Linked DNA regions of Homo sapiens. The protein of the gene in region 3 interacts with the protein of the main gene of each other region in a pairwise test. Each region holds a gene or a part of one and is shown on either strand. Other genes may lie near its edges.

Region 1 (7,050 bases), on a different chromosome or scaffold from region 3:
ATCATGCCCGGCTAATTTTTGTGTTTTTTAGTAGAGTCGGGGTATCGCCATGTTGGCCAGGCTGATCTTGAACTTCTGACCTCAGGTGATCCACCCACCTTAGCCTCCCAAAGTGCTGGGATTACAGACGTGAACCACTGCGCCCAGCCCTGCTTGGTGGTTCTTTATCACCCTGATTTTATTTACCATATATACTTGAATTAATAAAATCTATTATCTATTTGAATAGTCTGTAATTCAGAGTTTTCACTAATTTAACCTAGACTTTTCTACAATTAACTGATGTCAAAAGCCATCTTTATTGATACTGTGAAGGAGACAAATAAAATAGAAAGCATGATCCCAGCCTTAGAACCAGTCTGACTTTAACTCAAGGTTACTGATGTTGCTTAAGTGCTGTGGGTCTGGAGCCAATCTGGTTGAACTTTTTCAGCCCCTGACTGGCTCCAGTGTTATGGTAATGAGCTGGTTCTGGAGTGTCAGTTGCTTTAGCTCATTGTGGCTAGTAGATGGTCCAATCATGCCTCTATTTATGAAGACCCCAAGTACTCAGGTTAATGTGGGAAAATCAAAGGCTCTGTCTGGAAAATGTTGCCATTAGCATTGGCCTAGCAAAAGAGAAGGAGAGAAAGAAAAACAAAGGGCCTAAAAAATTTATTTTCTAAATACAAATCTCAAATAAAAGACAGTAATATATTTTGTTTTTACTGAAACTCTTAAATTTTCCTTACTTTAAGTTTATTCTTGGCCTATTTAAGTGACAGTGCCAGATTCAAACATTTTAGGCAGTGTGGCTCCAGAATCTTCTTTTTCATTTTTTATTGTTATTATTTTATTTATTTATTTATTTTTGAAACAGGATCTCACTCTGTCTCCCAGGCTGGAATGCAGTGGCCCGATCTGGGCTCACTGCAACTTCCATCTCTGGGACTCAAGCAATCATCCTGCCTCGGGCCCCTGAGTAGATGGGACCACAGGGGCACACCACCGCGCCCGTCTAATTTTTGTATTTTTTGTAGAGTCGGGGTTTCGCTATGTTGCTCAGGCTGATCTCGAACTCCTGAGCTCACGTGACCCGTGAGCTCACCTTGGCCTCTCAAAGTGTTTGCATTACAGACGTCAGTCAGCCACCATACCCGGCCAGAATCTTCTTTTTAAAAATCGCTACACTGTACTATCCAATAAGTCAGGGCAAAAGGAAGAATGCACTCCAAGGTACAAAGGCAGGAAATTATAGAGTATGTTTAATAAGCAGTTTAGTTTTTAACAGAATATGTAGGAGAATAATAGAAGGGAAGGACAGAAAATTACGTTGGGACTATATCCTGAAGGACCTTGATTGCCAGACTCAGGATGAACTTAAATGTATATCACATTTAGAAATAAAAGATAGAGCTATAAACTAACACTGCATAGTTCATTGTAGTGAAGATAGTTCCCTACAAATAGTTCTTTGTAGTTCCTAAAAAGTCCTCCTGTTTTAGTTTTTCAGCTGTGATCCACTTGTGTCAAATGAATTTTAATAAATGTTTTTTAATAAAGTTGAATAAGTTATTCTAAATATGTTAGACTTCTTAAAAAGCTAGTAGAATCTTCCTTTCCATTGAATTTTGAATGTTTTTTTCTAAAAATTCACAAACTGTTTTTCTCTTTTGATACTTTGAACCATTTAACTAGTTAGTCACAAAATATTTGGGATTCTTTTGTTTATCAAAATACAATATCAACAAACTTGTCATGATTGATTTATTTATTTTTGTTGTCATGATTTATTAATTTGTGTTTACAGATTATTATTACATTTGATATGGCAAAAATATTTTGGCTAAAGTGGTAATTTTATTATTATATTTCTATTTTAATTGAGCTATAGTGCAAATCTATGGCATTTTATTCCAGCATAATTTGGAAGTCCAATTGTACTTTAAGAAGTCTAACTCCTAATATGCTTCAGATATATAAAGTGTTACTAAGAATTATTGTGAATAATTTAACAAAAACAAGTGTACACGTTCCAAGGAGGACCATCCCCTTCGAAGTAGTCACTTTAGGAGACTAATCTATTTACTCTAATGTTGTTGTTATTGCTAAAATTGCTTTTGAAACTTCTGTTTTAGAATCACCTTGAGGCATGTAGCACATTCTTTTGAATATCCTCAAAGAAGAAAATCTTCATATTTTGAAAGTAGACATGATATCTAAATATATCTAGAAATCACTTGGCGACAAATCTGATGTGTAATCAAACCAAATGATACCATAATGATACCATAATGATACCTATTTTCTTGGTGATACATATGAAGGCAATTCCAAATAAAAAGAAAAATCCCAAAATATTTTGAGCATTGATAGCATAATTTACATCAGTGTATAACCTTCCAAATGACTATTTTGAAATATAACATTCAGATGAATTTAGTCATGCTTCATTTGGTATTAATCAACTGCTGACTATGTGCCAGCTGCAGTTATTAAAGACACTAAATCTACAGGTATAGCTTCCCACTGCTCACACTGGCCTACTTCCCACCTAATGAGAACCAGGCCAGAGTTCCTTTCCAAATAACTGGTAGGGATTCAGAATTAATCTGGTTTTTCTGAATCCAGTATCCAATGTACCAAAGGAACCATAACATTCCTTCATAACCTCCACTGTGGGTACCTAGGTGACACGAGAAAGCCACCGACACAGTGCCTGGTTTGTTTTCTCTTTTCCAGCTGGAACTTTGAGCCCTATTCTGCCCTATTCTGAACCTTCATCTCTAGTAGTCAACTTGTGCACAAACCTCAAGAACTGTACCCCACCTTCTATAGGCCAGCGTCCTTCTTCACTTTAAATAGGTCTCCCTGTAACCATGACTTCAACCTTTCTGCCCTGAAGCACTGCTCATGTCTAAAAAATATGTTCCCAAATGATGATACATAATGTATCATACACTTTTTCTAGAGGTAGGGCTTAAGAATCTGCATTTTAAACCAACTCCCCCAAGTGATTATTAAGCACATTAAAACCCGAGAACCACTATACTAGGTGCTCAATAAGTGCTTGTTAGCTTGAGTATGACATTTTAGTAAAGCAGGCTGAATGTTTGAGTTTACTTGGTGCTCCAGGTCTGTGAGTTAGCAAAATACATATATTTGAAGGAGTTTAAAAGGATTTCCAAGGAAGTATAAGAACCAATGGAGTGATCCAGGGAAAGAAGGGAGATATGACAATAAAACATCTTCATGTCTTAAATAAAACAGAAAAGTAAAATACCTCTTTCTGATTATCTTTTTCTTCAGATAATGGAATCTGAAAATATGGATTCTGAAAATATGAAGACAGAAAATATGGAATCTCAAAATGTAGACTTTGAGAGTGTTTCTTCAGTTACAGCTCTGGAAGCCCTCTCTAAGCTACTTAATCCTGAAGAAGAGGATGATTCTGACTATGGACAGGTGGTCATATACTTAACAGTTGAATTAGTTTTGTTCATGGGAAGTTGTGGAACTGTATTTGAATAACCTGTTCCCACCTAGCTGTGGGAACAGAGCTGTGTCATTTGATACATTCACAGGAAGCTACAAGGCTGATTATGCATGACAATGTAACCTGTAGTACATTTCTAGCAAAGATAATTATATTTTTCTAAACCACCTGAACACTGAATAGGAAAATAGTTCTGTAACTGTGGTAGCAATAGCCACATCTCAAAATGTTGTCATTTATATTTATAGCCAAAGAATGCTTGACAACCATTGCAGAGTGGTAGCTAGGATTGTTTAAGCCTAGGCAATATTTCTATAAAACAAATATTTTCAGTTATACAGTATTAATTGGACCACCAAGTACCAGTCCCTTAATTTTTTAATTTGTCTACACATTAACGCAGAACAGAAAGTTTTTGAGCCAAATAATAGGGCAAACTAGTTTCAGCCTACCAAAATTGGCTTCCCAGTAATGCACAAATAAAGTTGTGGAGTCTAATTAGTTGAGTAGCATTTGGGGTCAAGATAGGTAATGCCAGCAAGGCTTGCAGTAGCAAGATGGGCTTCATTTTGGGTAGAAGAGTTCATTGAACTGACCTTTGACCACTCCAAGGTTACTGCCAGTATTCCCAGAACAATTAAAACACTTTTATATAACTCCCTGCTCTCCATTCTCCTATTTCTTAACTATCGGTGAGCCTTGGCTATCAGACTGCCTATGATAGGGCAAACAAAATTTGGGGCAAAAAATCCCATATCATAACAGAATCTGTCAATTTGCATAAAATTATTTTAATGAAGTGTTTTGTTATATGACCAATTTATCATGAATAAATCATCTTTCACAAACGTACATATCAATTTACTCCTCCCAAAATTTATTTTTGCCACAATGTGGAGAAAAAAGCAAGCTATGAACAGGCAGCAAATTCAGTGGCTCAGATTGACACTGAACTGAGCTACCACCCTAAGGAAGAGCTTAGGTGGAATAGGGCAGAATAAATAAGATGTGAAATGGGAATAACATTTGTAGAAGAACTGAGTCAGCTTGGAGCCAGGATCAGGAACCAGGAAGTTTTAGTCAGGGAAAAGTCTTAGTAGAGGCTAAACAAAGAAACATCAGGATGTTAATGACAGCATTAGCTATACACAACAAACAGGATACAGGAGAAAAAGTTAGGAACAATGTATCAATGAAGTTGGGAAGGCAAGCTCATTTTTGCTACCTTAGTTGAGTAGCAGAATAATAATTTTCTGGAGCCTACATCCTAGGAAAGGTAAGGTTATGCCATATAGAAAAAGTATATCAAGTATTTGAGAAACAGTGACCTTGAATATAGTGAAGTGGAACTTGTAACTGGGACAGATTCAAATATAAGGATTTACCCTGGTTACAGAGCCTATTCCATTTGGTGTTTATGGCTGGAGGTGTTTATTTGCATCTAGAGGTGTTTCTAGGAGAAAAGATGAGTGCTTATGAGAATAGACTAACATAATATTACTGAGTTGTACAGTTTATAAAGGAAAATTACTATAATAATGTATGATTCTGTATATCTGGGTTATAAACAATTTTGAGATAATTGGTCATTCAGACACCACAGTACAGATATCATTAGAGGACATACAGTATCAGAACAGTGGGAGAATAATTAATGTTTCTAATGAACTATTACATTTTCCAGGAGAGAAACTGCTTTTCATTTTTTAACATGTATTAATCTTGGGAACTGTGGGATGATTACAAGAGTGATGTGTTTTTGAAAATATGCTCTCTGAAAACAGCAAGAGAACAGTTGCATACACATTGCTTCATTTACACTATCCCTTTTCTATATGACTTGTTAAGAATCTGGGAGATTGAGGAGAGAGTGTGTCTGTCATTTTTCAAAGCCATGAGGGGATCTTAAGGCCTGTGGGAAATAAGGTTCACTGCTCTTCACAGACATTATAACGAGGATGTTCTGTCTTACATATTACAAAGTGGCATGAATTGCAGTGATAAATTGCTCAGATAATTGGCTGTAGATTCATGGTAAAGGCTCAAATGATGTTCTAATAGAAAACAATTGCCAGATGGTTTTTAATGTTTTTATGATCCCATTCCATCTTTTAACTTGAAAATTTTATTTTTAATCATTTATTTTCATTAAATTAATAAATTGAAACTCCCATGTGTTCTGAGCCAATCACTGTCCATGGAAAGTATACCAATTTTTGTCAAGAATGTCCAAGGTTTTACTTCTACTGCTTTTAATTTTCTGTGGAAGGCAGCACTCAACTAAACAAGAGGCCCTCATGTTCTGAGAAATGCTTTACTCTGACTATTAGTGTTCTGATGATTAATAATTTAAGAAAAGTACTACACATTTACATGACATTAGTGATTAAAAAAGAGGGAAAAAAATGTCCCAAATATTATCTTGGGATTTTCACATAAAAATGCCTGTAATGCCTTAACCGCAGACATAGCACTTTTGAAACACCTTTTGGAAAGGAATAGTTACTGTCTCAGACACTGTTGAGAGATTATAGATTAATTTCTGATTTATAACTCTTGGAATAGTTTCACATAATAAAGACCCACGTGAGCTGTTCCATCAGCTTTCAAGAACAGACACTACTCTCCTTGCCCAAACAAGACATTCTAACTTTTGTACATGTCTAAAGTCTTAGGAGATGAGGACAGGGGCCTGAGAAAAGAGAGATAGAGGTGCTAGTTGGCCAGTAGGCAAGGAGATAAGAATTTTTTGACTGCCAGCAGTGGAGTGAGTTGGAGCTGCAGGGTCTGTCATCAGCAAAAAACAATTGGTAAGAAATTGGGATTTTCTTGAAATATCAAAGAATCCCTGAGACGGGCCAATGAGGTGGTGTCGCTATGTGTTATACTTAGTTGAAAAAAATGAAGATTGCTTGTATTGGTGAGTCAGGGCAAGTCCTTTGGGGATGTGTATGCTTGTGCAGAAGATGGAAAAATAAACTTATGAAGTTATGAAGACTGAAGTACATCAGCATGTATTAGAGACTATTAATTTGTGGTTGCTGTTTAAATCCACTAGTTCAGTGTCATGAGGCGGTGGGACAGGGAAGTGTTTCATACCTATAGTGGAAAAAAGTAAAAGCAGTTATCAGGGCTTTTGAATGATTAATCTGAAGTCTGAATACTTAGCTTCTGCTTAGTGTTAGTTTTTATTTCTATAAAACTTTCACATACTCTGTCCTCCATCTGACTACAACCAGACACTGCTAAACCCCAAAAGTGTCAATGCCTTTATACTAATACTTGGTTCTAACCTTCATAGAGATGAATGTGGCTCGTTCCTCTATCCCCAGGGATACATGATTCACTGAGCTGGAACTAGGGTTTTAGCCTGACTAAAGATCAATTCTGCTCTTGAGTCTATTAAACCAAACACTTTTTGAAAGAACAAGGAAAGCATATTCGAAATAGTACTTGACATCTGTCTTTCTGTTTTATAACAATGATGGGTAATTAAAGTGGAAAGCTCCATGAGTTTTTTTATGGAAATCCTATCAAATTTAAAGTATCACTAGTCATATAGGTTATACAAGTAT
Region 2 (4,444 bases), on a different chromosome or scaffold from region 3:
CCACCCCCATGATTCAGTTATCTCTACCTGGTCCCACCCTTGACACGTGGGGATTATTACAATTCAAGATGAGATTTGGGTGAGGACACCACCAAACCGTATCACTAACTACGCACTTAGGAGGAGTCACTTAATCTTTCTGAGCCTCAGTCTTCTCATCTCTAAAATGAGGAAAACAATAGTTCGTTCCTTATGGGGTTGTATGAGGTGCAATGCATGTAAGGCACTTAGCACTGGGCCTGGCACATTGTAAGCATTCTATAAATGTTAGTTACTCTTTCCCCTGTTTCCTTCTTGTCCTCAAATTATTGCTACCCAGGCACAGGGAGGAAGATGGGATATCACTAGGGAGAGATAAGGGAGCAAGATGCCCTGGGTGCACACAATCTAGGAAGCTGCAGGATTTTCCCCCAGAAGTATGGCTGGTGTCTACACACACTGAAGGGGCATCTGCCTGTGAAGTAGCTGGTGGTTCTGAGGCCTGTCTGCATCCTCTCCTCTAGTTTAATCCAATTGTCAGTATACCAGTGACCAGGAGCTGCAAGTCCTCCTCTTGTGAACCATTCTTTCACTACTCTGGGATGGATTTGAGGTTGAGAAAGCACAGACTGATGGTTCTCTCTATTCTGATAGATAATTTCCTGAAGGTCAATGCCATCTTCTTAAGTATTGCCTCTAGCTAAAAGTACCATTTGGCTTTTGTTTGTTGGCTTAATTGAATGTTCTTTGGAGATGTGTGTATTTGTACACTGAAAGTAATGGAATTAACCCTACACTTTGAAGATGATCTTCAAGTTAAAATATCTCGCAGCATGAGGAAAGAGGGAAAGGGACAGAGAGCAAGGGTGAGAATGAGAGCAAGACTGAGAGAGTGATATGTATGTCTGAGTAAGGCAATGAGTTAGGAGAGAGAGAAGCCCAGGCAGTCTTCCTTCTTTATTGCTGAGAAGTCACATCCACAGAGACTGGCCCACATCCTAATTCTGGGCCAACAGCTCCATTGTGCAATACCAAAGGTAATTCTAAGTTGTGTTCTTTTGCTTTCCCCCAAGGGATTTTTCTGCAAAGAAGAAAAAGACTTTGATAACTGGTGTAGCCTTGTTCAGAAGGTAAAGCTATATGTTTTTCTTAGTCTGAAAAATGAAGTTACCCAATTTTATTCCTTTTCAAGATTGTTTTTCATAGTAAAAAAAAATCCTACTCTGATACGACTTTACTGCAAGAGAAAGAAACTAAGGCAACAAAGAAACTATCAGGTGTGGGGAATTGTGCATAACTTCGGGGAAACTGAACAAAAATTTTGGTTTGAAATATGCTTAGCATGTCAAGGGAGTGATATTTTTAGTGATGAAACCTAATGTTTTATCTCATTAATAGACAATTATTTTCTAAAGGCAATACTTACATTTTAGAATGCAGCAAAACTGTATTTATGTCACATTTAAAGGTGGAATGAGAATTTTCTGATAAGACTATGCCTTTTATTTTATTTTATTATTTTTTGAGACAAAGGCTCGCTCCGTCACCCAGGCTGGAGTGCAGTGGCGGGATCTGGGTGCACTGCAACCTCCGTCTCCAGGTTCAAGCGATTCTCCTCCCTCAGCCTCCCGAGTAGCTGGGATTACAGGCGCCCACCACCACGCCCAGCTAATTTTTGTATTTTTAGTAGAGACAGGGTTTCACCACATTGGCCAGGCTGGTCTTGAACTGACCACAGGTGATCTGCCCACCTCGGCCTCCCAAAGTGCTGGGATTACAGGCATGAGTCACCGTGCCCAGCTAAGACTATGCCATGTAAATTAGGATATATACCATACATGTTGGACTGCCACTGAAACCATGCCAATATGTAGCAATAGTCTCTTGGGGCAGATTTAATTTCACTAACTGACATTTCTTTGGAGCCAGTGCTTCAGGAACATGTCACCCCTAAAGTGAGCTGGACCCATGCGTCTGGCACAGGCACTATGCCTCATGATGGAGAATAGGCAGTGAGTGCTGGCCTTCATCAGATACTCCCCGCAAAGTCCTTCCTTCCTGGCTAAACAGTATCTAGAATTGAAGATGGCTGAGTCTTCAGATGGTTCAAGTAGAGGATGCATGTATTTTCTAGGCCCCTGTTTTCACCTGGAAACCAGCAGACCACTGTCTCAGGGTTTGGGGTCAAAGATTGCCAATTAGAAATGTTGTGACTCTGAAGTATTTAAAACTGTTTTGTCATCTCCCCAGGAAATTCTAAAGGAGAATTTAAGGATGTTTGAATTAGTTCAGAAACATCCATCACACTGGCCTCCCTTTGTACCTCCAGCCAAGCCAGAAGTGACAACCACTGGGGCAGGTAAGCTGTTGTTCAATGGCTCTCAGCTAGCAGACCCACATATAGCAGTTGTTTTATGAGAAAGAAGAATTGTGGCCCATGCTTTCTGTGGACAGTAAAATTTCTACTCAGCTGGAGTGATAAAAAAATGGCACTTCTGGTTATTTTAATCTTCTGATGAGCTGATATTTACCAATTTCAAAGAATGATAATAGAAGAAAATGAGCTCATTGCAAAAGTTCTATGCAAAATCAAGATGACTAGGATTGCTTTTTCATGGTCTGGTTCAGAATAGCAAATTGAGGCCATCGATAATTCAAAGGTATCTTGAAGGGCTTTCAGAGCCTTGGCCACATCACCGTCGTTAGGTTTATGTAACAAGTCTGGCTATTTTGAGTCTTTATAGATAATTTCTAATACTTGGCAGTAGTTCTAATTGTAAGTCTCCTCCACACAAGTCTTTCTTTAGTACAGCAATTAAAAATGCTTAGTCTTAACTACTGAGTAAAGTATTTACTGACCACTTCAACCCAAGTGTCAAGCTTTTCTTCTTTCTCATTTCCGTATTCTGATAGAATTCATTGACTCTACTGAGCAACTGGAGGAGTTTGATCTGGAGGAAGATTTTGAGATTCTGAGTGTGTAGAATCCTGGGAACTCAACTTGAAGGTCTGTCTTCCATCTGGCACCATAAAAACATGAACTTATTGCATAAAACTTTTCTAGTCAGCAAGTGCCTGATATGCCAATAGCATACAAACTCAATAGCAATCATGACTGAGCCAATCACTGTTTCTCAGAAAAACAAAACAAAACAAAACAAATGACAGTAACCCTTCCCCGGAAAGAAATAGAACAATCATGGAGCCTAGGAGCAGAGAGATGAGGAGGAGTTCATTGCTTCCCAGCTTGTGTTATATGGCTACAGCAAGTCTTCAGCTGCTGCAATGAGGAAATGGGCATCTGGAAGACAAACAGCAACTCTCAGCTTGCTTCAAGAACCAGCAGATAAGAGATGGTTAAGCTGTTCTTCACCCTTTCAGATGTGACCTCTTTTGGACTAAGCAGCAATCTGTTCTCTTGCTCAAATAATAAAGTGACTGAATCAGGGAGGAAAAGGTTCTTGTTAAATTATTTGATTGTGTAGTTGAAGTAATTATAATTTATATCAAAACGTTTGTCAAAGAAACGATGTCAAATATACACTTCTTGATCTCCCTTCTGTTTGCGGGGATCTTACTATTTGATGGGTCACTGTCCCCATTCTTACTGATACTTTTGTCAGATATCACCCTGTCCTTAAATCATGATCACTTAAATCAGGGGTCAGCAAACTTTTTCTGTAAAGGGCCAGACGGGAAATATTTTGGGCTTTGCAGGCCATGCGGCCTCTGTCACATCTACTCAACTCTGCTGTTGACATGCAAAAGCAGCAATAGACAATATGCGTGTAAATGAGTGTGGCTGTAATCCAAGAAAACTTTATTTACAAAAGCAGGTGGAGGGCTGGGTTTGGCCTGCAGGCTGTAGCTTGCCAATCAGTGACTTAAATTGTTGATTTTTGTTTGATAAATTAAAAATAAATTGTGTTTGAAGTATACCCTACTTGGTTGACAGCCATATTTAGAATTATTCATGTGGTGAATTACACATTTTATCTGTGCATCATATACAATTCCAAACCATTTGAGGCTAGCAACATAATAGGTTTTAAAGCATGTATTCATCAAATTAGCTTTGCTAACCACTTTCCTGTGAGGATGAACCTCAAGCCCCAGCAGTACCTTCTCATTTTCCTTTTCTTGCTTCCTTAACTTGCCTGCATTTCACCCCCATCCTTAATCAAGTCCCGAGGAAGGCCAGCAACTGGAAGCTAGCACCAAACCAATCTGCTTGTTTCCTTAGATTCCATGTTTTTCTTTTTCCCCCCGTATATTCCAATGGTTCAAAATTCAAAAGATGTAAAATGATATTCAGTGACTTGTCTCTCTCTCCGATAGGTCAGTTCCCTCCCTTGGAAATTCCCAATGGTATTAATTTCTTGTTTATCCTCTCAGAGGATATATTTTATACATATATAAATATATGCACACACACACACACATATACACACACACACTCATACAC
Region 3 (7,050 bases):
TTTTTTTTAACAACTAGTATCATCCAATGATTTGGAATGCTACATTTATCATAGACAAAATGCTTATACATGTGTGGGTTTGTTTCTGTTCCATTGATTTTTCTCTTTATTCTAGAAGTAGTACAACTTTGATTTATTATTGTAACTTTAAAATACACTTTGATATCTGATGTAGGGCACATATTTTTCCTAGATATAAATTTTCTAAACAATGTTATTGAGGTATAATTTGTGGGCAGTAAACTATACATACTTAAAATGTACAATTTGAAGAGTTTTGATGCATGTATACACACATGAAACCACCACCACAATCAGGATACCTAACACACACACACACAAACACACACACGATACCTAACATTTCCATCACTCTCCAAAATTTCATTGTGTCCTTTTACAATTCATCTTTTCTTCCATTTCTGTCCCCAGATAACCACTGATTTGCTTTCTATTCCCATAGATTAGTTTGAATTTTCTAGAATCTTATATAAATAGAAGCATACAGTAGGCACTCTTTCATGTCTGGCTTCTTCCACTCAGCATAATGGTTTAGAGATTCATTCATGTTTTTGTATGTATCAGCAATTTGTTCCTTTTTTGCAGAGTAGTAGTTCATTATATGACTATACCACATTTTAAAAAATCCTTTCCCTGTTGATGGACATGTGGGTTATTTCCCACTTTTCGCTATTACAAATAAAGTTGCCATGAGAACATTCATGTTTGTCTTTGTATGGAACACACATTGTATTTTCATTCCTCCTGCAGAAATATCTAAGAACAGAATGGCTGGGTCATGGGTAGGCATATGTTTAATTTTTAAAGAAACTGCCAATCTGTTTCCCAAAGTGTCATGTTTTACATTTTCCAAAGTAGGGCATATATTTAAATTTACTGAATTATATTCACAGAAGGACTGCCTCTAATTGTCTGCCCCTATGATTTGGTCAGACCTTTTAGCATTTTTCTTATAAGTTTTAGTGATAGATTACCATTATATTCTAAAATGAGCACATATTTTTAACTAGTTGCAGGGTTTTTTTAATTTGTTTGTTTCGTTTTGTTTTGTTTTTGAGACGGAGCTTTGCTCTTCTTGCCCAGGCTGGAGTGCAATGGCGTGATCTTGGCTCACCGCAACCTCCTGTCTCCCGGGTTCAAGCAATTCTTCCGCCTTAGCCTCCGAGTGGCTGGGATTACAGGCATGTGCCACCACACCCGGCTAATTTTGTATTATTTTTTTTTTAGTGGGGACGGAGTTTCTCCATGTTGGTCAGGCTGGTCTCTAACTCCCAACCTCAGGTGATCCACCCTCTGTTGCCCCCCAAAGTGCTGGGATTACACGCATGAGCCACCACACCTGGCCAACTAGTTGCAGTCTTAAAGACCTAGGTATTGCCACATCATTAAGTAGGTAACAGACTTAAATAATTTCTCCTTGTGAATCAATGTTTTTTATTTTGGTAAAAAAAAAACCCCACATAACATGGAATCTACCTTCTTACAAAATTATTAAGTGTACAGTATGGCATTTTTAACTATATGCACATTATAGTACAGCAGATCTCTAGATTTTTTTCTGTGAATCAGTTTAAATATGCATTTTGAAATAAACAGAAACATAATATTATATACAATTATCTTGGATTTGCTGGATTTTAATTGTGGCTCCTCTACTTATGAGATCTTAAACAAATTACTTGATCTCTCTGGGCCTCAGTCTCCTCATCTGTATAATGAGGATAATAATAATACTTACTTTGTAGGATTGTTGTTGCGATGGAAGGAAGAAAAAGCTGGAGCGTTGTCTGGTATGTAGTAAGCATCAATAAAAGTTACTAGTCAGGCTTGGTGGCATGTGTCTGTAGTCTGAGCTACTCAAGAGGCTAAGGAAGGAGGATATCTTGAGCCAAGGAGTTCAAGGCTCCAGTGAGCTATAATTGCACCACTGCACTCCAGCCTGGGCGACAGAGTAAGAACCTGTCTCTAAAAAATTTTAAAAGGCCAAGCACAGTGGCTGTCTTCTGTAATTCCAGCACTTTGGGAGACTGAGGCGGGAGAATCGCTTGAACTCAAGAGTTCATCAGCCTTACAACATAACAAGACTCCCATCTCTACAAAAAAGTTAACTATTAATGTTTTACCTCCTTTCACAGGAGGAATGAAAATTATAAAGCAGATGCTTTTTATTGAAAACCTGTTTTCAGTATTTTGATTAAAGAAATGTGTTCCATTTATAATTATTGTTATTTAACTACATATAGATTTATTATGTACAACTTAACATTCAAAACTACCTTCCATATTTTGTTTGTTTGTTTCTATACCAAGAAAGGGAAACAGAAAAGAGCTGATTTAATAATGGGTTATTGAAAGATTTAGGGACTTGAATATTTGCAAAATGGTATTATGATATAGAAAGAGTGCTGGATTAGGCGTCAGACAACATGGGTTAAAACTCGTGTTTGGCAAACTACTAATCATGCTTCTAGATCTGTAAAATGCAAATGATTATCCATGAACTTTCCACCTGTCAGGGCAGAAAAGAGGATCAAAATGAGCTAATTAATTTTTGCTAATTTCAGCAGAAACAGACTGACCTCTGTTTTGGCTAGAATCATGGGACATTTAACCTATAATAATGTTTTGCAAGTGCAAATTCCTTAGGGAAATAAACAGCCAGAACTTACTACCAGAAGTTCCTGAGGTCTAATTCCATCTTTTCAAGAAGGCTTTTTGATCTGGATAATTACTTACTTCTTAATTTGTCAAATAAATTTAATTTTTACCATATGGAGCCCTGTTGAGAGCTCACTTATTAAAATCTTTTTCCTTTCCTAGGCTTGTTTACAAATTGATCCTGCTGACAGGATATCATCTAGTGATCTTTTGCATCATGAGTATTTTACTAGAGATGGATTTATTGAAAAGTAAGCATTTTGAGTGAATGTGGGTTTTTTAAAAGCATTTTGTATTGGGAAATTTTACTAGCAGGAAAATTGCTGTATAGGTTACTTTTATATAACAAATATTCAGTTTAACAAAAATTTATTGAGTTATTGTATCAGGTATTGACTAGGAAGACAGCAGACTTAACAAGTGTCACGAATGAAAAGCCTAATAATAGGATGGGCATAGTGGCTCACACCTGTAATCCCAGCACTTTGCGAAGCTGAGGCAGGCAGATTGCTTGAGCCCTGGAGTTCACGACCGGCCTGGGCAACATAGAGAGACCCCTGTCTCTACAAAAAATACAAAAATTAGCAAGGTGTGGTGGCACACGCTTGTAGTCCCAGCTACTCGGGAGGCTCAGGTGGGAGGATTGCTTAAACCCCAGAGGTGGAGGTTGCAGTGAGCTGAGATTGCACCACTGCACTCCAGCCTGGGTGACAGGTTGAGACCCTATCTCAAAAAAAGAAAAAGAAAGTCTAATAATAAAAAGTAATTGCAACTAACATTCGTTACACAGTTACCATGTCCTAGGCAGTGTGCTCTGCTCTTTACATACTACAGTTTCAGTGTCATCATAGACCAGAGATAACATTAAATAAGCAATCAATACTTCTTAGCTTTATTCCTGTTTGGACCTCTGACTCAGAGAATAGTCTGGTTTTTCCTCTTCTGATGACATTCATTTATCATAATTAGCATGCACTTCCCAAATGATTTTTTTTCTACTTATTCTCTGTTGCAGTGCTTGTTGTCTTTTTTTTTTTGAGATGAAGTCTCGCTTTGTTGCCCAGGCTGGAATGCAGTGGCACAATCTCGGCTGACTACAAACCTCCATCTCCCGGGTTCAAGCAATTCTCCTGCCTCAGGCTCCAGAGTAGCTAGGATTAGAGGCACATGCCACCACGCCTGGCTAATTTTTGTATTTTTAGTAGAGATGGGGATTTTGCCATTTTGGCCAGGCTGGTCTCAAACTCCTGACCTCAGGTGATCCACCCGCCTTGGCCTCCCGAAGTGTTGGGATTACAGGCATGAGCCATTGCGCCCGGCTGCAGTGCCTGTTGTTGTATCCTACCCATGAAATTGGAAGTTCCCTGAAGACAGGTGCCATGCTTCTTATGGCCCTTCTGTGCCCCACATTGCCTATGACATGCCCAGCATATAATCTGTATTACAATTTAGATTCATGAATCAGCCATATTTCTAAAAAAACACCATTTTCTATTTGGGCTTTGAAAGAAACAGGAAAAGTTTCTCATTAACTGTAAAACCATTCAGCTTGTCTTTGGACGTGACGTTAGAAAGATGGACATCCATTAAAAATGTGATGGAGCTAAGGTCAGATATGGAAGAGTCCAGGAACTGCTATTGGAGATAGACTAAATAGAAAAAAGCGAAGAGAATCCTTGAGGGTGACTAGAACTTTGCGCATTTCAGGAATTTTACTCTAAAACAAACAATAAGATGATATATTTAAAGTGCCATTGGCAAGGTGCTGCAGCTCATGTCTGTAATCCCAGCATTTTGGGAGGCCAAGGTGGGCAGATCAACTGAGGTCAGGAGTTCAAGACCAGCCTGGTCAACATGGTGAAACCCCATCTCTACTGAAAATGCAAAAACTTAGCTGGGCGTGGGCATGTGCCTGTAGTCCCAACTACTCAGGAGGCTGGGACAGGAGAGTCATTTGAACCCAGGAGGCTGAGGCTGCAGTGAGCTGAGATCACACCACTGCACTCCAGTCTGGGTGACAGAGCCAGACTCCGTCTCAAAAAATAAAAGAATAGGCCGGGCTTGGTGGCTCACACCTGTAATCCCAGCACTTTGGGAGGCCGAGGCGGGCAGATCACGAGGTCAGGAGATCAAGACCATCCTGACTAACGCGGTGAAACCCCGTCTCTACTAAAAATACAAAAAACAAAATTAGTTGGGTGTGGTGGCGGGCCCCTGTAATGCCAGCTACTCAGGAGGTTGAGGCAGGAGAATGGTGTGAACACGGGAGGCAGAGCTTGCAGTGAGTGGAGATCGTGCCACTGCACTCCATCCTGGGTGACAGAGCGAGACTCTGTCTCAAAAAATAATAATAAATAAATAAATATAATAAAAAATAAAATGAAGTGCCATTGATAAAAAGTGGCAGTTATTGGCTGGGCATGGTAGCTGATGCCTGTAATCCCAGCACTTTGGAAGGCCGAAGCAGGCGGATTGCTTGAACGTAGGAGTTCAAGACCAGCCTGGGCAACATGGCAAAACCCTGTCTCTACAAAAAATACAAAAATTATCTGGGTGTGTTGGTGTATACCTGTAGTCCCAGCTACTACGGAGGCTGAGGTAGGGGATTTCTTGAGCCCAGGAGGTCAGGGTTGCAGTGAGCCATGAGTGTGTCACTGCACTGCAGCCTGGGCAACAGAGAGAGACCGTGTCTGAAAAGAAAAGATGCCAGTTATTGAATTAAGAGGTTGCTTCATATCACTTCTACACAGACGAAGTTTATTTTTCTTGGACATTTAGATATTAGGCTTCTATTATTGTGGGGTGAAAGTACCTTGAGTTCAATTTATAGAATCCTCAGAAGAGTGGGCTGGACTAGGGAAGAATTCATTCATGGGCTGATGTTTTAAAACCTTCCCAAACTGATAGCTGTAGCTGCTTCAAGGAGGGGACTTGTGCAGTTCAGGGAAGGGGTGGGAAGGAAACTTTTCAGTATGGACTTTTGAACTTTGAACCACATGAATGGACTTTCTAATCAAAAATAACTTTTAAAAAGAAAGAAATCAAACTAAAACCAAAATAATCTCTCTCCAATATGAAGGTATTCTGTTACATTTCTCTAGAGTAAGATTTTAGAAGTTAGTTAGTTCATTTTTAAAGTTCTATTACTTTAAAGAACCACAGCTGGGTGCAGTGGCTGACGCTTGTAATCCCAGCAACTTTGGGAGGACGAGGCAGGTGGATCACCTGAGATTGGGAGTTGGAGACCAGCCTGACCAACATGGAGAAACCGCGTCTCTACTAAAAATACAAAATTAGCTGGGTGTGGTGGCACATGCCTGTAATCCCAGCTACTCAGGAGGCTGAGGCAGAATCGCTTGAACCCAGGAGGTGAAAGTTGTGGCGAGATGAGATTGTGCCATTGCACTCATGCCTGGGCAACAAGAGCGAAACTCCATCTCAAAAAAAAAAGAAGAACCACAGAAAAGGTCAAAGTGGTCTGAGTCTTCCTTAAAAATAACAGTATCTTTATCAAAATTAAAAGCAATATTTTTCTGAGTAAAGTTTGCATCGCAGAAGGAATCTAATTAGTATAAATCTATTTTGTAAAAGTTTTATATAGTAGGTTCCCATAGCATAATTTTCGAAAGATGTATCTTTAGAAGAAAGCAATTTTTATTAGGTAAATGTTGGGCCATCTCTTGACATGCATTATAGTTAGCATTATTTATGCTGTAGCTGAAATGTACATTAATTGATGAAATGGTTTATTCAAGATAAAATACTCCATCTGCATATATAAAAAGATTACTCGTTGATATTGCTTGTTTTGTCAGATTCATGCCAGAACTGAAAGCTAAATTACTGCAGGAAGCAAAAGTCAATTCATTAATAAAGCCAAAAGAGAGTTCTAAAGAAAATGAACTCAGGAAAGATGAAAGAAAAACAGTTTATACCAATACACTGCTAAGTAGTTCAGTTTTGGGAAAGGTAAGAACTTTGGTTTTTGTTTCAGCCAGTATAATTATATTATAGTTAGACTCTAATGACAAAAATAACTGTTATGATGACTCAGATTTTGGATGTATCTATTCCAGGAAATAGAAAAAGAGAAAAAGCCCAAGGAGATCAAAGTCAGAGTTATTAAAGTCAAAGGAGGAAGAGGAGATATCTCAGAACCAAAAAAGAAAGAGTATGAAGGTGGACTTGGTCAACAGGATGCAAATGAAAATGTTCATCCTATGTCTCCAGATACAAAACTTGTAACCATTGAACCACCAAACCCTATCAATCCCAGCACTAACTGTAATGGCTTGAAAGAAAATCCACATTGCGGAGGTTCTGTGACAATGCCACCCATCAATCTAACTAACAGTAATTTGATGGCTGCAA
Region 4 (7,000 bases), on a different chromosome or scaffold from region 3:
TAAATGATATCCAGTCTTGTAAGAGTGTGCTAAGTAGACACTGTCATTGATTGTTGGTGAGGGTGTGACTTGGTGCAGGCTTTCTGGCAAGTAGTTTGGTAATATGTATCAGAAAATTTTTTAAAAACATTAGCCAGGCATGGTGGCATGCCTATAGACCCAGCTGCTTGAGAGGCTGAGGCAGAAGGATTGCTTGATGACCCAAGAGTTCAAGGCTATGTCAAATGCACAGCCCCTTAACCCAGCAGTTCCACTGGTAGAAATTAAGCTATAAATATTTCCAAAGGTATGCAAGATAGTTATGCAAAAATATCTATTGTAGCATTGCTTGTGATTTTACAACCCCTGCCAACTGAAATTCTGTAAGAGGAGAACTGCTTACATTACGATACATCCATATAATAGAAAGCTATGTGGCCATTAAACAGAATGAGTTAGCTCTTTTTGTGCTAATGTGGGAAGATCTCCAAGATATATTAAGTGACAAAAGCTAAGTGTAGAATAAAATGTAGGTAATGAACCCAGTTGAGTAGGGATTTTTAAAGGATGTATATGATTTATTCTGATATATGCACAGGGAAGTTTCTAGAGATATAAACAGGAGTTTAATGGTGATTTCCTTTGGGGGAGACTAGGAATAAATGATGGGAGAGATTTTTTTTTTTTACACCTTTCTATAATTTTTTTTTACATGTGCATGTGTTATATCCCACACCCCCTTTTTCAAATAGCTAAAAGCAAAATTCTACAGTGGTGAGATCTAGCAGAGAATCTGTTCACCCAGATGTAGTTTCCAGAATTTACATACTTTTAGTCTACTCATTTATATAGTCAACTTTTCTTTTTGAAATTACGAATACCTAAATCATTTATTTCATGATCTATTTTTGTTTTAAATTACTATGAAATGTTTTAAGATGTATAAAACGATAAATTAATACTTCACTCTAAAAACACAGTCTTTTAAAATTATTAGTGCCTAATCTGGCATTTTTGGCATCTTAGAGGAGGCAGAGTGATGTGATAAGAAAAATCACATAGACTTTAGAGTCATCCAGACCTGGATTCACATCTCAACTTAATAAAAACTAGCTTTTAACCTTGGGAAAGTTACTTAAAATAGCTGAACTTCAGACGATCAAGCCCTACATTTGCAGAGTAATTATAAAGATTAAGTGGGAAAAAAGGTATCAGTCCCTAACATATCATAATTACTCAAGAAACCTTCATTTCTTCTCTTGTCATCTCTCCCTATCCCTCGAAGATGACTTTCAGTCTTTGTCTGGGTTGTCTGGCTCTTTTATATCATACTTAGAAAACTTGGGGCTGGGCGCAGTGGCTCACGCCTGTCATTCCAGCACTTTGGGAGGCCAGGCGGGCAGATCGCTTGAGTTCAGGAATTCGAGACCAGCCTGGACAACGTGGCGAAACCCTGTCTCTGCAAAAAATACAAAAATTAGCCGGATGTGGTAGTAGTGCATGCCTGAAGTCCCAGCTACTCAGGAGGCTGAGATGGGAGGATCACCTGAGCCCAGGAGTTTGAGACTGCAGTGAGCTGTGATCACACCACTGTACTCCAGCCTGGGTGACAAGAGTGAGACCCTGTCTCAAAAAAACAAAAGAAGACTTGGTAATTTAGCAATGTTTGGATGTAGTATCAGAGCAAGGTGACATATGCAGTAATAAATCGTTTGGGTGGTTTTTTTTTTTTTGCTTTAATTACAGAATTTGGGGGAATTACAGAGTATGGGCAGGATCTCTAGCACAGCTCATCTTGTGTGCCATTGTTAGGAATTGTTTCTAATGCTTGACTTACCCCACAGAATATATTTACAGTAGCAACACAGGCAATGCCTTAGTCTTCGTTATAACTTTGTCTTCTGATCGACTCTGTTCAGTAGCAGGGACTTACTATCCTCTTTGGTCTATAGACAGTTTGGAGATCACCAGATAAGAAGCATACCTCACCTTGCAGTTTCATTCAGTTTCATATTCTCAGAAGCTCTTAAAGGGCTAAAATTCTGGCAGCAGCTGGAGAAATCTGCATTGCTCAGGGCCTGAGTGACTGTGCCCCTTTAGTGCTGAAAGACCAGAGGTGCAATTGTCCCGTCCTCACTGCTCAAGCCCCCAGGCCCCTCACTCCCTGACTGTACTCTAGTCTAATGGTCTCCTTTCAGTTCCTTGCAATTGCCAAATGCATTCCTGCCTCGGAGCCTTTGCGTATGCTTTTCCTTGTTCCCACCATTCTGTTCTCCCACCCTCACCACAACCTGTCAAATATCAGTTAAATCTGAGGCTTAAAAGTTCTGTCATTTTGAGCTGGGCATAGTGGTATATACCCATAGACCCAGCTACACAAGAGGCTGAGGTGAGAGGATCACCTGAGCCCAGGAGTTTGAGACTACAGTAGCTATGATGGTGCCACTACACTCCAGCCTGGGTAAAAGAGTGAGACCTCATCTCTTTAAAAAAAAATTCTGCCAGGAGCGGTGGTTCATGCCTATAATCCCAACACTTTAGGAGGCTGAGGCTGGTGGATCACTTGAAGCCAGGAATTCAAGACGAACCTGGGCAAAAAGTGAGACCCCTGTCTCTACAAAAAAAATTAATTTTTTAAAAAAACTAGCTGGGCAGCTGGCGTGGTGGCTCACACCTGTAATCCCAGCACTTTGGGAGGCTGAGGTGGGTGGATCATGCGGTCAGGAGTTCGAGACCAGCCTGGCCAACATAGTGAAACCCCATCTCTACTAAAAATACAAAAAAAAAAAATTAACCAGGTGTAGTGGCGGGCGCCTATAATCCCAGCTACTTGGGAGGCCAAGGCAGGAGAATCGCTCGAAACCAGAAGGTGGAGGTGGCAGTGAGCCGAGATCACACCATTGCACTCCAGCCTGGGCAACAAGAGCAAAACTCTATCTCAAAAAAAAAAAAAAAAACTAGCTGGACATGGTGGCATGTACATACAGTCCCAGCTACTCAGGAGGCTGAAGCAGGATGATAGCTTGATTACCCAAGAGTTCAAGGCTGCAGTGAACTATGATTGTGCCACTGCACTCCAGCCTGGGCAACAGAGCAAGACCCCATCTCGTTTAAAAAAAAATTATATTATTTGAATGGGTATCTTGTTTGTTTTAACTGTAAATATTTACAGTACTTGGTTTTACTTGGGAGATTTGTATAGCTTACAAATCTTGTCCCTATGGATTCAGTTCTCTTACCCACAGACACAGAACCAAAATCAGGAGTTCCACAAGGAGTGGTGGTGAGTCCTGCCTTTGGCAAACACGCACCTGCAAGCTTTGCTCTAGGGATTGAATCCCTTACCCAGTGGGGCCCATAGGCTAGAGGACTTTGTGGAACTTTGGAACTTGTCTTAACAATGGAGGAGGGGATAAAATAAGTTTATCTTTGGGCTGGAATTTGTACTAATTTTTCTTTCTCTTGTAGCACCGAACAAGATTTGTGATGAAATGGAGCCTGGAACAAACTCTTTTCGGGTAGAATTTCCTGATTTTTCCAGCACCATTCTACAGAAACTGAACCAGCAGCGCCAGCAAGGACAATTATGTGACGTCTCCATTGTTGTCCAAGGCCACATTTTCCGGGCACACAAAGCCGTTCTTGCTGCCAGTTCACCCTACTTTTGTGACCAGGTACTCCTGAAAAACAGCAGGAGAATTGTTTTGCCTGATGTGATGAACCCAAGAGTGTTTGAGAACATTCTCCTATCTAGTTATACAGGACGTCTAGTAATGCCCGCTCCAGAAATTGTTAGTTACTTGACAGCGGCAAGCTTCCTCCAGATGTGGCATGTGGTAGACAAATGCACTGAAGTTTTAGAGGGAAACCCTACAGTCCTTTGTCAGAAGCTAAATCATGGCAGTGACCACCAGTCACCAAGCAGCAGTAGTTATAATGGCCTGGTAGAGAGCTTTGAGCTGGGCTCTGGGGGTCATACTGATTTTCCCAAAGCCCAAGAACTGAGAGATGGTGAAAATGAAGAGGAGAGCACCAAAGACGAGCTGTCATCCCAGCTCACCGAGCACGAATACCTGCCCAGCAACTCGTCCACAGAGCATGACCGCCTGAGCACGGAAATGGCAAGCCAGGATGGGGAGGAGGGCGCCAGCGACAGCGCCGAGTTCCACTACACCCGGCCCATGTACAGCAAGCCCAGCATCATGGCTCACAAACGCTGGATCCACGTGAAGCCCGAGCGCTTAGAACAGGCTTGCGAGGGCATGGATGTGCACGCGACCTACGACGAGCACCAGGTCACAGAGTCCATCAACACCGTGCAGACAGAGCACACGGTGCAGCCTTCGGGAGTGGAGGAGGACTTCCACATCGGGGAGAAGAAAGTGGAAGCTGAGTTTGATGAACAGGCTGATGAAAGCAATTATGATGAGCAGGTGGATTTCTATGGCTCTTCCATGGAAGAGTTTTCCGGAGAGAGGTCAGATGGGAATCTAATTGGGCACAGACAGGAGGCTGCCCTCGCAGCAGGTTACAGTGAGAATATTGAAATGGTAACAGGGATTAAAGAAGAAGCTTCCCACTTAGGATTCTCAGCCACTGACAAGCTGTATCCTTGTCAGTGTGGGAAAAGTTTCACTCACAAGAGTCAGAGAGATCGGCACATGAGCATGCACCTCGGTCTTCGGCCTTACGGCTGTGGGGTCTGCGGTAAGAAATTCAAAATGAAGCACCATCTCGTGGGCCACATGAAAATTCACACAGGCATAAAGCCGTATGAGTGTAATATCTGTGCAAAGAGGTTTATGTGGAGGGACAGTTTCCACCGGCATGTGACTTCTTGTACTAAGTCCTACGAAGCTGCAAAGGCTGAGCAGAATACAACTGAGGCTAACTAAAAATAGGATCTGGCCCTTGAGTGGCATGCACAAAAATAAACTATGGTAATTAATGCAAATCTGGGCACAGATGATGCGTGCTACTTGCTATTATGAGAGAAGCTTAAAAAAAAAAAGGAAGATATTTCTGAAAGACCAGCTCTAAGTAGGCCAATTAAAAAAATCTAATTCCTCAAATTTGTGTGTTCCAGTCCTGGCCTGGAATGGGTAATGGGGTGAGTTAACCCACCGCCCAGCTGGCAAGGGAAACCTTCTGACTGGTTGTGATCGAAACAGGTGGACAGAGACACCTGCACTTGGAACTGGACTCCACCCACCAGTTCCATTTTGGGTGGCAGCAGCTTTGGATCACTCATTATTACAAGGTCATGCTGAAATTTTATTTTGCTCTTGCTATAGATACTTAGGTAATGTGGATTTGTTTTGGTAGCTATTTCACTGAAGGAAGTGCTACTTATATAAAAGCTAGAAATAATGTGATTCCTAGGATGAGAAATTGGTTAACAGAGCTCTGTTGTCTGGTTTTAGTCTTTCTAAAGGATATTTTAACTAAAACTATGGAGATGCTAAGAGAGTGACTTTCTAAATATGAAACAGATAATTTACGGTACAAGGCTGACATAGTGCCCTTGTCAGTTTCTGTAAGATGCCACTACTGTCACAAGGTGTTTCAGACTCTTGATAAGGCAGTGTTTTGTATTTTAGTTCTAACATTGAGTTTGGACAATTTTATCTAATTGTAATTCTCTAGGGTGCCAGAGATAGGTATTTCTCATTGGTTTGCTTTCCCAAATCCTGTTTGGTTAATTGTAGCCTCCATACAGTGGGGTCTTCTCTGTGGCTGGTAGACACCAAGCTGCTGTGACTGACCACGGTACCACGGGCTGCCACAGCCCCTGCTCTGTCTTAGATTATGGTGCTTTACAAAGAGAGTGGTCCATGACCACACTTAGTGAGAAGGAGCCACAAGTTGTGGCTGAGAGTTCCCTGTGAACTTGAGTAGTTCATAGAGTGCTAAGGTGACACTCCACCAACCAGAGTGAGAGGGCAGATAGGCAGGATTCTATGAGTGGTTATACTTAAGGGGGACAAAACTGCCCAAGAAGAATCTTGAGAATACACTCTTTCAAGGTGGGGGAGATACTCTTTAGAGGGTACACTGAGCTAATACTACCAGTTCTTTATGAGCACTGGAATGTGTTTGTAAAAGGAGTCCTAAGTTTAGCAAGGTAGTCTACAGAACCATGCTCCCACATTATAGATAAAGCTGCTTAAACTTAAAAGTCCACAAAGCTACGCCGACCAGAAAAAAAAAATTAAAAAAACAAACAAGAAAAGCAACTATTCTGAGACCTTTTCTGCCCATCAGTTAGATGATTTAGGTTAAAAAGAAAGGTAATATTGCACATGCTTTTAAGCTGTGTAACATACCTGAGGTTATCACCAGGGTAGGACAGGGTGCTACTACCATGTCATCTTTTCCACAATCGTACTGGGTTATTTACTTCTAAATAGAAACTTTTTTTTCTTAAAATAAAAATAATTTTTCTTGGATTTGGGGTGAAATTTTATTTGAAAAGTTTGGCTTTGCTGTAATGTAATAGACATTGCTGGCAATGGCCTCTGATTCTCAAGCTCCTAACACCAGGGTGTTTACTTGTTGAACATTGTCTGGAAAGAGGAAAGAAAATACTTATTTACCAGTTAACTCTTGTAAGCAAGATTACAAACAGGGATTTATTCACAACACTGTATCATTCTCGATATATAAAAAGCACTTTGTATTTAAAACTTTATTATAAATATATATATATATTGTTTTTTTTTAAACCTAGAAACTAGATATTACCTCTTGGTTGTTTGCCACATTAATAGCTTCTCTTAGTATTGAAACGTTACTGGTTAGCAGTCTTTTCTCTGTGTACCTGACACACGTATACTGAGGGGATTGTACAATCAAGCCTATTGTCTCCTTTTCTTTCACTCATGGTAGAGGCCAGTGGGTTTTAGGTATGATCCTAGCCATTATATTTGAGGAGAAATTGTTCTATTACTCCTACTAATTTCAGTACTAAGGTGGTGATGCCATTTTGTTCTGCCAAAAACTGATCACCCTCTCCCATGGT

What was found.
Region 1: the proteins of CDKL3 (region 3) and DNAAF6 interact in binary tests that used the Homo sapiens proteins (3 or more experiments, as listed by UniProt).
Region 2: the proteins of CDKL3 (region 3) and ATG4A interact in binary tests that used the Homo sapiens proteins (3 or more experiments, as listed by UniProt).
Region 4: the proteins of CDKL3 (region 3) and ZBTB43 interact in binary tests that used the Homo sapiens proteins (3 or more experiments, as listed by UniProt).

What each region holds. Positions count from the first base shown.
Region 1 is NC_000023.11:107,209,585-107,216,634, forward strand, and holds part of DNAAF6 (dynein axonemal assembly factor 6), read left to right. Parts: intron 1-3,288; 5' UTR 3,289-3,291; coding exon 3,292-3,444; intron 3,445-7,050. UniProt on the Homo sapiens protein: Plays a role in cytoplasmic pre-assembly of axonemal dynein.
Region 2 is NC_000023.11:108,150,750-108,155,193, forward strand, and holds the end of ATG4A (cysteine protease ATG4A), read left to right. Parts: intron 1-1,052; coding exon 1,053-1,109; intron 1,110-2,229; coding exon 2,230-2,338; intron 2,339-2,892; coding exon 2,893-2,963; 3' UTR 2,964-3,922; downstream 3,923-4,444. UniProt on the Homo sapiens protein: Cysteine protease that plays a key role in autophagy by mediating both proteolytic activation and delipidation of ATG8 family proteins.
Region 3 is NC_000005.10:134,308,172-134,315,221, reverse strand, and holds part of CDKL3 (cyclin-dependent kinase-like 3), read left to right. Parts: intron 1-1,304; exon of another isoform or gene 1,305-1,811; intron 1,812-2,841; coding exon 2,842-2,930; intron 2,931-6,494; coding exon 6,495-6,648; intron 6,649-6,755; coding exon 6,756-7,050.
Region 4 is NC_000009.12:126,829,040-126,836,039, forward strand, and holds part of ZBTB43 (zinc finger and BTB domain-containing protein 43), read left to right. Parts: intron 1-3,447; 5' UTR 3,448-3,470; coding exon 3,471-4,874; 3' UTR 4,875-7,000. UniProt on the Homo sapiens protein: May be involved in transcriptional regulation.